2 linked regions of the Homo sapiens genome follow. The protein of the gene in region 2 purifies or fractionates together with the protein of the main gene of each other region. This does not show direct contact. Each region holds a gene or a part of one and is shown on either strand. Other genes may lie near its edges.

What was found. The genes of interacting proteins can lie anywhere in the genome.
Region 1: the proteins of CECR2 (region 2) and SMARCA5 purify together in Homo sapiens (affinity purification with mass spectrometry; 3 studies listed by BioGRID and IntAct, with this or other methods). This does not show direct contact.

What each region holds. Positions count from the first base shown.
Region 1 is NC_000004.12:143,516,682-143,523,708, reverse strand, and holds part of SMARCA5 (SWI/SNF-related matrix-associated actin-dependent regulator of chromatin subfamily A member 5), read right to left. Parts: intron 6,355-7,027; coding exon 6,280-6,354; intron 2,281-6,279; coding exon 2,114-2,280; intron 1-2,113. UniProt on the Homo sapiens protein: ATPase that possesses intrinsic ATP-dependent nucleosome-remodeling activity.
Region 2 is NC_000022.11:17,547,433-17,554,459, reverse strand, and holds part of CECR2 (chromatin remodeling regulator CECR2), read right to left. Parts: intron 6,313-7,027; coding exon 4,896-6,312; intron 2,430-4,895; coding exon 2,318-2,429; intron 1,626-2,317; coding exon 1,620-1,625; 3' UTR 1-1,619. UniProt on the Homo sapiens protein: Regulatory subunit of the ATP-dependent CERF-1 and CERF-5 ISWI chromatin remodeling complexes, which form ordered nucleosome arrays on chromatin and facilitate access to DNA during DNA-templated processes such as DNA replication, transcription, and repair.

The DNA.
Region 1 (7,027 bases), on a different chromosome or scaffold from region 2:
CTAATTTGTAACTTCATTTCTACCAAAACCACATGCTTGCTAAAAGGATAAGCGGCCTTCCAAGATAGAAGCATTCCTCAGAAATTCAAGGGCCTTCTTGTTTGTTATATATGCTTCTAATCATAATCAGTACATCCTAGTCTGTTATTCCTTGTACTTCTCTGCATTCTGAGCCTATGAAATTGAGTACAAAGATCTACTTCCATCCCCTATTTATTCTCCATAAACTGGGAGATAATTTTAAATTCTTTTTATAAAATATCCTTTATAGTTACTCTCAAAATGTTTGATTATTACAGTTGTAAAACTTAAAAGCTGAGATGTCATTTATTGTTAAAAATTGAATATAATCGTGAATGACTTAAAAAAAAAACGTATTCCTGGCCAGGCACAGTGGCTCACGCCTGTAATCCCAACACTTTAGGAGGCAGAGGTGGGTGGATCACTTGAGGTCAGAAGTTCGAGACTAGCCTGGCCAACATGGTGAAACCCCATCTCTACCAAAAATACAAAAATGAGCTGGGCGTGGTGGCGTGAGCCTGTAATCCCAGCTGAGGTCCAAGAATCGCTTGAACCCCAGAGGCACAACTTGCAGTGAACCGAGATCACACCACTGCACGCACTCCAGCCTGGGCCACAGAGCAAGACTCTGTCTCAATAAAAACAAACAAACAAAAAAAGATTTAAAAAAATGTATTCCTGATACCCAAAGACAATACTATGACCCTCATTACTTTAGGTAAATTAGCTTCCCATTTAAGATGGTTTGAGGAGTAAAGAAATCTGTTAACTAGGACTTTTTTCCCTAATAACACTATTTAATACATTAAGCCTAACAATTTATTATTACTATTTCCAATAGAATCTTTTTTATCTTATAAAAAAGATAAATTAGGATAATAATAAAATAGAAAAGAATAAAAGAAGTGTTTCTTTTCGAGACATCATACTGACTATCCCATAACAATATTCAGTACAGTAGTTTCCAGTTTCATGCCATGACACTAATGCAAACTTCTGAAGTCTGAAATATTTTAAATACAGCTGAAGGGCAAAATTGTCCCTTCAAAGTTTCGTAAGTATTAAAATAGTGCTTTGGTCACAATGGATGAGAAATAAGATATAATGAATGAGTGGAATACCCCAAATAAAAGGTATTATGCTTACAACGATAACCCCTTCAAGATGAAGATCATACTTCCCTCTTTCAACAAACTGTGTAGTGAATTTAACCTTGTTGATACTTCTTCTTTTAAACAATCTTTTGTATTTTAATTACTAATCACAGTTTTCACTTTGGGAATTACACAAAGCCATTTCAGGGAGCCAAGACTGCCCTAAATCTACTATTACTAATTAAACATCTTATTTATCCAACCAGAATGAAAATTCTAGAGAATTTCCAAATTCAACATGTAAGAATTATTTTCAACCACCACCAAAGGACGGCATACAACGTGACACTTCAATTTATATAAAAACAACTAAGTATGCAATAAAAATTTTAAACAGGCTGCCGTGATGTAAGTCATCACAATATCCCACACACCACACTTTAGATAAAATACTGTCAACATCTGTATGTGATGGAGGAGCCTAGAGCACACCCAAGTCAGATTCAAATTCAAGTCTGGATCATTCTTCAATGTGATGTTAAACAAGCCACTTAACCTCTGCATTTGTTTCCTCTCTGAGGAATGACGTGACATCTAAATTCCATACTCAACATGATTGTTACAATTCATAAACTATATAATGCTACAAAAAATAAGGCGTTATGCAGTTTTATTCTTTTTTTTTTTTTTTTTTTTTTTTGTAGAGATGGGATCTCCCTACGTTGCCCAGGCTGCTCTCATACTCCCGGACTCAAGCAATCCTCCCACCTTGGCGTCCCAAAATGCTGCGATTACAGGCAAGAGCCACTGTGCTCTAACCATTATGCGTATTTTTATATACTTATACATTTATGGCTAAATCATGCCAAGCCAAACAGGGCCAAATAAATAATGGCACTAAAATAATTTTAAGTTATTTATCATAGTGATTTTATGCTTCCACTGAAGACTATCGAAAATAAGTTTGGTTGAACTATGAAGTTTAAACTATTACTCACTCGCCAACGGATAGTAAGTTCTGCTTCTCATCTTTTTTTATTCGTGGGCGCCCTGGTTTCATCTTCAAAGGTGAAGTTGGAGTCTTCTGAGCAGCAGGTTGAATGAAATGTGCAAAAAGTTCTGTCTGCTTTAATAAATACTCGAATCTATTTGCCCGGTCAGTTTGCTGAAAAAAAAAAATTTAAGATACATTTTATCAGAGTATCAATTAAAACTTCAGAAATCAAAGTTTCAGCATGCCTCCATACAATGAACTCAGCAAAAAAAAAAAGAGAACTACAGATAAATGCAACATGGATGAGTTTCAAAAGCACTATGCAAAGTGAAAGAAGCCAAACACAAAAGACTACATGCTGTATGATTCCACTTAAATGAAATGCTAACTAGTGATAGAAAGCAGATCAGAAGTGGCAAGGAGGTGGGAGCAAGAACTGATTAGAAAGGAGCAGGAGCAAACTTTGGGGATGATGGAACTACTCTGCATCATGATTGTGATGGTATTTAAAGAAATATTTGCTAAAACTCATTGAATTACAAACTTAAAATTATTTTATGTCAATTATACTTCAATACAGTTGATCGGAACAATTTTTAAAATATTAAACACTGTGCAATACAAGTGAATTTACTCAGAAGCTGGAAAAAATGCAGTGCTCATTCATTAGTTAGGCTGTGACAAATTTTAAAACGGTATTGGGATTGATACTATTCCTTCCTTTCGTATCTGCCATCTGCCCCTTTGAATGTTCCCTATTATAATACCGAGAGAATGGAAAAAATTTACTTGGGCAAAAAAAACCTTAAGAGCCTCGAAGACAAATTTTCATAAAAATAATGAAATTGGGAGCCATTAGGCAGCCTTTATACAAAAACAATAATAGTTTGATGAAACAAAGGAGAAGCAAGACAAGAAAAGCTCAATAAACAGGGAAACCAACTACTCAACATCTCTGTCTATAAATGTTTAAAATGTCAGTTTGGGAATAAATTACAAAAAGACATTTTACCTAGCAAACACAAGAAGTATCCAAATGCCATAATGTTGTAACAACTACGTATTTTTAAAAGGAACATAATCATTTTTTAAGGTCACACCAATGTAAAAACTGAAGCCCAATTTGCTATTAGGAAGGCACATGGTTATAGTGTTTCATTGGGTCACAAATGGCAGTCATAGCAGCAAATGAATCTGCACAGTAACAAGACTGTGAACATGCTAGAACCCCAGTAATGTCCTACAGATGACAAGCCTCTGTTATTTATGTTTTCCAAGATTACAGACTGTTTTTAAAGTGCTGAACAAGATACATATGTGAATGCATATTTTACATAATTACATTTCTTAATTTATAGATAATGAAACAAAAGCCAAGAGCACGCATCTACAAGATGTTTGGACTGAAAAAATAATTATTGTAATTATGTTTGGAATCAAGATAAACTGCTTGAAAGAATGAAAAGGTTAAAACTGAAATGTCTTGAGGGAGAAAAACCAACAGAACCTAAAAAGCAGAAACAAGAGAGTATGATTAGGAACCTGAAAGAAATCAATTATAAAATCAAACGGAAATTAAAGTGAATAGCTTTGGACTAGCTTCTTTCTCTGAAACAGGAAGAAATGAGGTAGGATAATAGAGGCTATACATATGTTTGAAAAGAGAAAGAAAATAAAGACAGGCCTGCAATTCTTTGTGGAGGAAGATTGGAAATGAGGGCATGGTAGAAATGGAGAAGAAAGACTGATCAGAGTGGGGACATTTTAGAATGGCTAAATGAGACTGATAGGCAATAAATACTCAAGGTCCAAGAAAATAAAAACCATAAACTTATACTGGCACCAATCAGCACTAGTATTTAGTTTTCTGAAGTAGTACTCAGCATTCTGGGTTCAAGAACGAGGAGTGGATAGTGAACTTATCTATGGTTAGAACTAGCAGATGACAAGGGAGCTTCTTGCTTAGAAGAAAACTGTGCAGGTGAAGATCATGATGTCAAAAAAGGAAATAATGCTGGGAGACTGAAAAACCTGGAAGAAACGAAAAGAGTTCCAATAAAGGCCACTAAGAAAATGAAAAGCATTGTAGAGAGCCACTGAAAAACCTCCATTTCACAGTCAAATTTGTGTTATAAATAACACTTTGCAAAAATGTTAAGAAACTTGGAAGGGGCCAGATCATAAGAAAGGAGGCAAATACAGAAGCACAAAATAATCCATGCAATAATAGAAAAATACTAAACTAGGGTGATATGGAAAAGAGAATAAACTCGTAAGTAAACTTATTGTTTACAAGTATGCAGTACTGTCATGAACATCTTGAGTATACCTGAAGAGGAACTTTCATTCATTGAGGTAACACTAAGGTATGCTAAGTAAAAATTATGAATTCAGTTTTGGATATTCTCAAGTAAGAGGTATGAATAGGATTTTAAAGTAAATGAAAATACGGATTACAGGCTTCTGGGCTAGAGGTTAAGTATTTGAAAATATTCAGTTTAAAGATACCAGGTAAAAACCAGTAAGAATCAAACTGTCTAGGAAGAAATGTTCAAATTTTAATAAGGAAGGACAAAGGAATAAAAAAGCAAAGAGGATATTATCACGGGAAAAAATGTCTTTCAAGGCAAGTCAAGATTTTTGAGGAATGGTCAACAATGTCAAGCACAAATCAAGAAACTAAAACTAAGCCTCAGAATTGGCAATTAGATTCACCAGCAGAGTGTGTCAGAATCTAAACTATAAAGGGTTAAAGCAGTATTAAAATATGTAGACTGTATTCAAAGTAGTATTCACTTTAAAAAAACAGAGCGGCAAATCTATTTTTTCTCTAAGTTTGATAGCAAAAAAGGTGACAGTTACATATATACATATGTAAAATATATAACAAATCAAACCTAAAGATATATCATTTATAATTTACATAGTGTTATATGTATTGTGCATATTATACATGCACATAAAATACATACCATAATTTTAAGATTTTGAAGCTATTTAAGACATTCAAAAATATTTACTGATTTGGAAGAGAAAGTCAAAGGACAAGAAAAAAGTATGTTTTAAAAAATATGTAAGATCTGCTATGTGCCAGATACTGTTCTGGGTACTGAAGACAGAAAGAAAGATTAAGACACTGTTTTTACCCTACAGGAGCACACTGTGTAGTGGTATTCTTATTTAATACATTGTTATTTTAACTTTTTGAGATTTCAATACAATTAAATGAGTTTAATCCATATAAAGCATTCCTAACAGGGTCAGATACGGAGTAAACATTCACTGTTAGCCACTACTACTATTACTAAAACTGAATTTAAATTTAAAGCTCTGTGTAGGTACTGTTTAAGTCAAGTCATAGTTTTGAGAAGTTTCTTAGAAGATACGGAACGTGAACTGGGACTTGAATGACTCCAATATAATGTCATGTTCTTTTTGTAAAGACCCCATCTATAATATAAAAATGCTGTGAACAAGGAGCATATTTCTTTTTTTGGTAACTAGCAGAGTACAATGCTAGTCAAGTGCAGAATAAACATACACTGAGTAACTATTCTGGTCTTCACCTCGCTTCCAAGGTTAAATTTTTAAAGGTGTTGTTAACATAACTAGATAATGACATCATATTATGTTAATTCATATAATACTTCCATTTGGCTTACATAGACACATAAGATATGGAAGTTATAGTATTCCATATTACACATATTTCAAATGGATATCTGTGCCATAATTACAAAAATTAAACAGACATTGCTATGGTTTGACTGTGTCCCCCTCCAAATCTCCCATGTTGTAATTTAATCCCCAACGCAACAGTGTTGGGAGGTAGGGCCTAATAAGAGGTGATTAGGAAAAGATTACTGTCAGTATCTCAGGAGGAGGTTATCACCAGTGAGCTTGTTATAAAAGAAAGTTCAGTCCTGTCTTGCTCTCTTCTCTTGGCCTTCCTCCATATAATGACACTGCAAGAAGGCCCTCAACAAATGCTGGCCTTGACCTTGGACTTGCCAGCCTCCAGAACTCTAAGAAATAAATTTCGTTTCTTTATAAATTACCCAGTCTGTGGTATTGTTGTAACACAAAATGGACTAAGATAGATGTTTAGTACATTTAATCACCTGATAAAAAGTTTTCCTTATAGACTCTATTCACAAGCCTAGAACATACCATTTTTTCTTCATAGGTAGGATCTGGTTCTTGGATTTCCTTTTGCTTTCCAGGTGACGCATCATCAAATATTTCCTGGTAGAAAGAAATAATTAAATAGAATTGGTCTTCGAAAATAGTAAACATACCATTATAGACCAATTTCTGACCAAAACACATCTTAAATAATACATTCTCACCCCAAACTTCCTAGAAACTTAAACAGCTGTCATCTAAGCTAACAGAAAAACTGATAAAATGATATTAGATACTATGGGGATAACAACGTATTTAACCCATATATATAAACTGTATGGTTGTTGCCAAGATTAGAACACAAGATTATCTTCATCATCCTAAAAGAAAACTACATTTAATACAAGCCAATCTGTTTCTCTTTTTCTGTAATAACCATGAAACCAAACTAAATAGTATAAAATGTGGGGAAAAGTTCCCCTTTTGTCATAAAACTACAGTATCTACTGTGCTACCACACAAATGTCTACAAAGAAATCAGAATTAGTCACCCTGATTTCCACCTTCTGGAATATTACAAAAACTTTATCTCGCAGCCTAAATTGAATACTCTAACTACAGTCTGATTCCTAAACTAGTAATAAATGTTATTCTTGCAAATATATTTATCCTGACATTCATATGTCACAAGCAACAAAAAACAACTTCTACACTGCAAAGTTCTATTCATCCATTAAAAAAAATTGGCAGAAGTAATCTTCATTAATGATGCACAAATCTATGCTAGGCAATA
Region 2 (7,027 bases):
TTAGCAAACTGTAAACACGACAGTTCCATGCTTCACTAGGAATCCTGGAATTGGAGGGAAACACTCTACTGGCCCCTCCCACAGCTGAATTTATAAGAAACTAGGGCAGATTAATATTTCATAGAGACTCTTCTACTATCCCAAAAGCATGCTTAAAAATATGCTATTCTTTACAAAGACCTGTAATTTCAGTATTTTCCTTAGTTTTTTCTTTTGTGGAATATTCAAAAGTTTAAAACATGGGTCCTAACTTTGGTGACCTTTCAGCTAAAATCAAATACAGAATGCTAACGAGGGAGAATCCAGTGTAATTCAACTCTACAACTGTAATAAAGTAATTTAATACTGTAAAATGGTTTCCTATCACAGATACAACAGATAATTCCAAGAACTTGTTCTTGATAGCTATTTTAAATCACCATGACTGATTTTACTATGATTCACTTAAAACGAATAAAAACTATATATACTGAAATATTCCTAAATTCAAACTGTAAATCTATAGAATACATTTTTCCTATTCAAACCTGTGCAATTCTTTATTGATACTAAAATATACAAACCTGAGTAGTCACTTCCACAAAATGTGATTCGTGCCAGAAAGCTGTGTGTGATGCCTTCTAGATCACAGTCCTGACAGGGAGGTCTGTGATGAGGACGATTCATCTTCTAATACGTGAAACACTCTAGCGATCCCAATTCCTGATACTGGTTTACAACTATTCGGTAGGGCTGGTGGCAAAATCAGGAAGGGACACCACTTTCTCAATTTGGGCCACCAGCATGAGAGAGCAGCCTGTCTTCCGGGCTGAAGCTTCTAGTAGTCTCCTGAGAGCAGTCTGCCTCCAATGGAGACACCAGGTGCTTAGGGGACAGGTGTTCTCTCTCAGGCTGACTGGAAGGAAGGAAGGCCTTTAGCTATTCTGAAGGCTGGCTGGCCACTAAGGAAACACAGTGACATATTACAAGATCAAACCTTTCCTACCCTCATCTCCGGCTCCCATAAGTATTCAGTGTGACATGATTGTAAACAGATAAAAATCACTCCAGTGCTGTGTGCCCACCAGTTAGGACCCCCATTTCTTCCGCATCCCCACCCACCCTTCCCACTTTATGTACAATACATTCACCACCAACAAAAATTATTTTAAAAGGCAACATGAAAATTCTGTAAACTGGACCCAGCTCCAAAACCATTAATACTAAGAGTAGTCCCTTCCCCAAATATATACCTGAGTTTAGCTGCTCATCAAAGTTTAAAAGCACCACTCCATTCTTGAGTATACCCCCTCCCCCAAGTTTAAAGTGATTTTCCCTGAAAAGTGTCTCAGGATTTGGAAAAGTCATCATTAACTCCACGTTCATTAGTTTTGCCTGACTGTCTACATCAGCTGTGCAAGAGATCCCTGGCCGAGGACCTTTGCAATCTGTGTGTCAGTCATCTAAGGAGTGTCCTTTTAGGGCCCGTGACTGGCTCCAGCTCAAGTATGGCACGAGTGGGTCGCCGTGAAGGGGTGGAGCAGGTGATGGGAATAGAGCTGACAGGGCACTCCCCAGTTCTCCACATTCCAGTCTTCGTGTGCAGCTTTCCATTGCTTGGGGCTCATTTCCTCCTTGGACTAGCTCTGAAAGAAACAAAGACATTTTAAACAAAAATAAAAATTGGGTTGTTAAAAAAAAAAAAACTTAAGTAAGCCAAAGAATGTCCAAGCTCCTCATGTGTGAAAATGGCTTGATTCTGTTTCATCAGTTACAGTTTACTTCCAGAGGGTAGGTTCTAGAGTCCTGGACTTCTCAATTCAGATCCCAGTCCCAGTGCTTAACAGTAGTAGGACTTGCACACTGGGAAATGATGATGATGCAGCCAATGAGAACTACTTTGTGGGGGTCAAGGGAAAGACTGCATGGGAGAGAAGCACTGCACGAGACAACGCATGGGAGAGAAGCAGCACTCAGAGGCAGCTATTACTACTTTAAAACCCACCAACTAGTCTCTCTCCAATGAGAAAGGTGGGAAGCATAAAACAGACAAGGGATCATGGCAGAAAAAATGTTTGCAGATGGCTTGGAAAAAATGAGGTTTAAATACTCACCAAATAGGTATGCATTCCATATCACAATAAGAAAAAGAGACATGTGAGAGGTGACTTCCGAGGCCTCTTGCTCTTTTTCCAAGTGCCAAGGAAGCACGATACAGGCAAAGTTCCTGTATCCACAGGATACCTTAAAACATTTTTTCAGAACAGCAAGGTTGTCATATACTTACTTCCTACCACCTGGAGGAAGAAGAACAGCTCTAATTTTTAGTGATCCTTACCTGATCCAGGGGAAGTGTTGGAGGCTTATGAGGCGGCACCTCCTCCTGTGATGTTGCTGCTGTGGGGGTCTTTGGGAACGAGGCCTGCGACTGGACCGGGTGCATCTGCATTCTACAGCCACGAGAAAGAAGCAATGAAGAATTAATGAAGACGTGTTAACGACAGAAGAAACAAGACACTGTAGTCACGAGGGTACTGCCTTCATCACCCCGGTGATCAGGCCTGGAATCATCCATACTGGGACAACTCGACATTCTGTGCCCCCTGGGGCAGTAAGTGGCACGCACACGCACCACCTACTGCACTCCTGACAAAAGTGTTTAATCTATTTTTTTTTTTCTTTTAGAGACAGGGTCTTGCTCTGTCACCCTGTTAGAATGTAGTGGCAGGATCATGGTTTACTGCAGCCTCAATCTTCTGGGCTCAAGTGCTCCTCCTGCCTCACCCTCCTGAGTAGTGTGTGCTACCATGCCTGGCTAAGTTCTTTATTTTCACTAGAGACAGGATCTCACTATGTTGCCGAGGCTGGTCTCGAACTCCTGAGCTTAAGCAATCCTCCTGCCTCAGCCCCCGAAAGTGCTGGGATTATAGGTATGAACCACTGCACCTGGCACAAGAGTTTCATCTACACACAAGGAGACTGTGTGATGAATCTGGAATCTGGAACACTCTCCATGATAACTGGCCTGGACTCTTTGGAAAACAAAACAAAGATATGACAACTGCTATAAATTAAGAGACTAAACAGACACGGCAGCCAAATGCAAATCCATGAGCCTTCATTGGATCCTTTATCAGAAAAAAACAATAAAAATAGAACACAAAGAAACGACTCTAAAAGACACTCTGGGGACAACTGAGGAAACAGAAACAAAAACTCTATTAGATACTGTTATTTGCCTTGAGTGTGGTAATCGTTTTGAAATGGTGCTCCAAGGCATGTCCATTCTTAGGAGATGCATGCTCAAGTATTGAGGGGTTAAGGGCCATGATGTCTACAATTTACTTTCCAACAGCTTAGGAAAAAAAGCAAAGCAAAGAAAACAGGTATTTAGAGACATATAAAGCAAACACGACAAAATGTTAAATAGTAGAGAGGGTCTAGCAATAAGATGACAGGATGGCACTGAGGAGGGGAACACTGGTTTTTATGCTGAATGGTACTGGTTTCAAGACTATGCTTCATAACTTTTTTTTTTTGAGACAGAGTCTTGCTCTGTTGCCCAGGCTGGAGTGCAGTGGCATGATCTTGGCTCACTGCAAGCTCCGCCTCCCAGGTTCACGCCATTCTCCTGCCTCAGCCTCCCGAGTAGCTGGGACTACAGGTGCCCACCACCACGCCCGGCTAATTTTTTGTATTTTTAGTAGAGACGGGGTTTCACCGTGTTAGCCAGGATGGTCTCAATCTCCTGACCTCGTGATCTGCCCGCCTCGGCCTCCCGAAGTGCTGGGATTACAGGTGTGAGCCACCGCGCCTGGCCGCTTCATAACTTTCATTTGTATCTATCGATTTGAAAACTTCCTGGATGGCAGATCACCTAACTGGATCTGGAGAACAACACTACACAAGCATGTGTGAAAGAAGTCTCATGGGGACTTGTTTGCATTCTGGATAAACCTGGTTTTCTCATTCAATGATAGGGTAAGAAATGAGAGGTATGTAGTAAAACTTCAATACTACATGATCTCCTCTTCTACTCCTGGGTAGGCCTATTTTTTTTTTTTTTTTTACCTTGGTCAGAGTGTCTCCACATGGCAGCAATGTTGACACAGGCTTGCTTACAGCTCTCAAACTGTGGTTATTAAGTTTATAGTATCATACAAAACTCAGCCAGGTGTGGTGGCGGGCACCTGTAATCCCAGCTACTTGGGAGGATGAGGCAGGAGAATCGCTTGAACCTGGGAGGCAGAGATTGCAGTGAGCAGAGATCGTACCACTGCACTCCACCCTGGGCCACAGAGTGAGACTTAATCTCAAAAATAAATAAATAAATAAATAAATAAATAAAGTTTACAATATCAAAATCTAAGTCAGTCATTTAAATGCCAGTTCATTTTCATGAGTGGAAAAAATTTCAAAGATAAAGTTGGGCTCTAAGTTTAATACCTTCCTACAGAGTGTACAACATCAATAATTCACATATTTTTTTTGTTCCTAGACCATGAACTGTTATCTTCATCTCTAAGGCCATTTTTCTGTTTAAAATGAACATCCAGGCCAGGTGTGCTGGCTCATGCCTGTAATCTCAGCACTTTGACAGGCTGAGGCAGGAGGATGACTTGCGCTCAGGAGACTAGGACCAGCCTGGGCAACACGGTGAAACCCTACCTCCACCAAAAAAAAAAAAAAAAAAAAACCAAAAAGTTAGCTGGGTGTGGTGGCATGTGTGTAGTCCCAGTTACTTAAACAGCTGATGCAGGAGGATCCTTGAGCCTGGGAGGTCGATGCCGCCGTGAGCCATGATCACACCACTGCACTCCAGCCTGGGTGACAAAGTGAGACTCTGTCTCAAAAATAAATACATAAAATAAACATCTGTTCTCTCTTTAGGGGGAAAAGCCTGAATGCAATCTTACCCTGATGGTCTGTACATTTCCTGGAAAGGTCCTCTTATTCCACTTCTAGTGCCAATTTGTTCCATCATCACAGCTTGAAAGTGACCCAGGCCTTCTTCCTGGCAGCGATAGATGGGACCCTCCTGAGAGAGGCCGTTGGGCTGGGTGGCCCCTGGGTGGTGAGGTGGGAGGGCAGCCACAGGGGAAGAGTAAGCCCTGGGCTGAAAGTGACTGGCCGGCCGCTGAGGGGTATAGGGAGGCCCCGTCTGCAGCATCACACTGTGGGGTGGAAATGCAGATGAACCAAATCCCATTCCTGAACTCAGAGGCGGAGGAGTTCCATAGAGATACTCGCTGGCTGACAACGAGCTCTGCCGCTTGGTAGCTGCGTTATGGTTGTCCAGGTCTAAAAATTCTTTGGGACTCTCTGGCCTCTCCATAGATTCATCCAGCTTCTCTTCCTCTGGACCAGGATTCTGCCCGTCATTTGGGACTTTAGCAGCCACTGCATCCATACGGGTTGGAGAAGTTAAGGCAGCATTCAGTGTCTCACAGCCTTGCAGACTGGCCATGGCATTCTTATCTGAGAAGAGGGACCTTGGTGGGGGAGGCTGACTGGCTGGGGGTCCGCTTGGGCTTCCCTGGGGATGGAGAGGTCTCTGCCAGTCAGAAAAGCTCTGTGGACAGGCATAGTAAGGAGTTCGCTGATAGTGGTGGTAGGAAGGCTGTGGCGGTGGGTGGTAGGAATACCTCATTCCTTGTGGGGGGCGATACCGGGGAAAGCCTCCAGAATGTGGGTGGTTAGACTGAAAGCCCCTTGGGGGAAAATGCTGGGGATGGGATGCTGGGGACTTCCCTCCCATCACAGGGCCCACACCCTGCAGGCCTGGACTGATGTGGTAATGGGCAGCTGAATTCGGGTACTCTAGGCCAGGCATATACAGCGGGGGAAACTGGCTCACAGTGCCTCCCGTCAAACCGGGGTCTGTGCTGGGCGGTGTCGCTGCGTTCTGTCCCGTGCATGGCATGGTTTCCTGCAACGTTCTGCCTCTGGGGCAGAGCAGCTTTTCGGAACCACTGCTACCAAGGCCCTTCCCCTCCGATCCACAAGGAGATGCTTCCCCAATGACTCCGTTCTCGGATAGAGCGCCCCTGTCTGCCACCGTGGAGAGGTCTCTCACGCACCCTTGGGCGGCTGGGCCGGGGTAGCTGCTATCCGAGGGCCAGGGATTCTTGCCCTTCATTGCTTTACAGTTGTCCGCAGATTCGGAGGAGCTGCTTTTGAGCTCCGGGCCCACTGTTTCCCTTTCTTGTGGTGAGCTCTGCCTGGTGCAGTCAGTCTGCAGGGGAGGTGTGGGGTGAGGTAGTTGTGTGAGGTAGACCCCCTCTGAAGTACCAACACCTGGTGGTTTCTCTTCAAGGCCAGGCAACGGCTCTGCTGCAAAAAAAAAAAAAAAGAGGAGAAAAAATAACTCAGTAGCTGAAATGACAGTATTAATGTGAAGAACATGCCTGAGTCAGATTAAGGTGGATGTGTGGTGATTCAAGCCCCACCTGGAAATTGTTTGAGTCCCTGAAAGAGGGCAGGACATTGGGGTCCCTGTACACTTCCTTTCACCCCTTTCACGGACACAAAGGTAAAACCTAGCACCTCTACATTCACTCTTACAGTGGGCCGGAGAATGGAAATGTCCTTAACCGTGGGTTGCCCGATTCGTAAGAGGCTGAGAGACGGCTTGTGGCTCACGGACTCTAGGCAGATGCACGTGAAACACACTGGGAGGGGATGGTTGTCATCAGAATCACTGGCCATGCTGGGAAGCTCTAAAATGGGATGCAACCAGAAAGAACAGGGCATGACGGGCGCTCAGGAAGGCCAAATGCCTGGTTTCTGCTCCACGAGAATAAAAGCTCCACAGGAGGGACTTCTCCGTCTCACTGTCCTCTCAGTTCATGCACACAGACTCAATCACTTTGTTGAATGAATACATTCATTTTGTCTGCATGTCTTGAAGACAAGACGCCTACAACATGAAACTCAAAAGGCATCTTTAGGGGCCGGGCACGGTGGCTCACGCCTGTAATCCCAGCATTTTGGGAGGCCGAGGCGGGCAGATCACGAGGTCAGGAGATTGAGACCATCCTGGCTAACA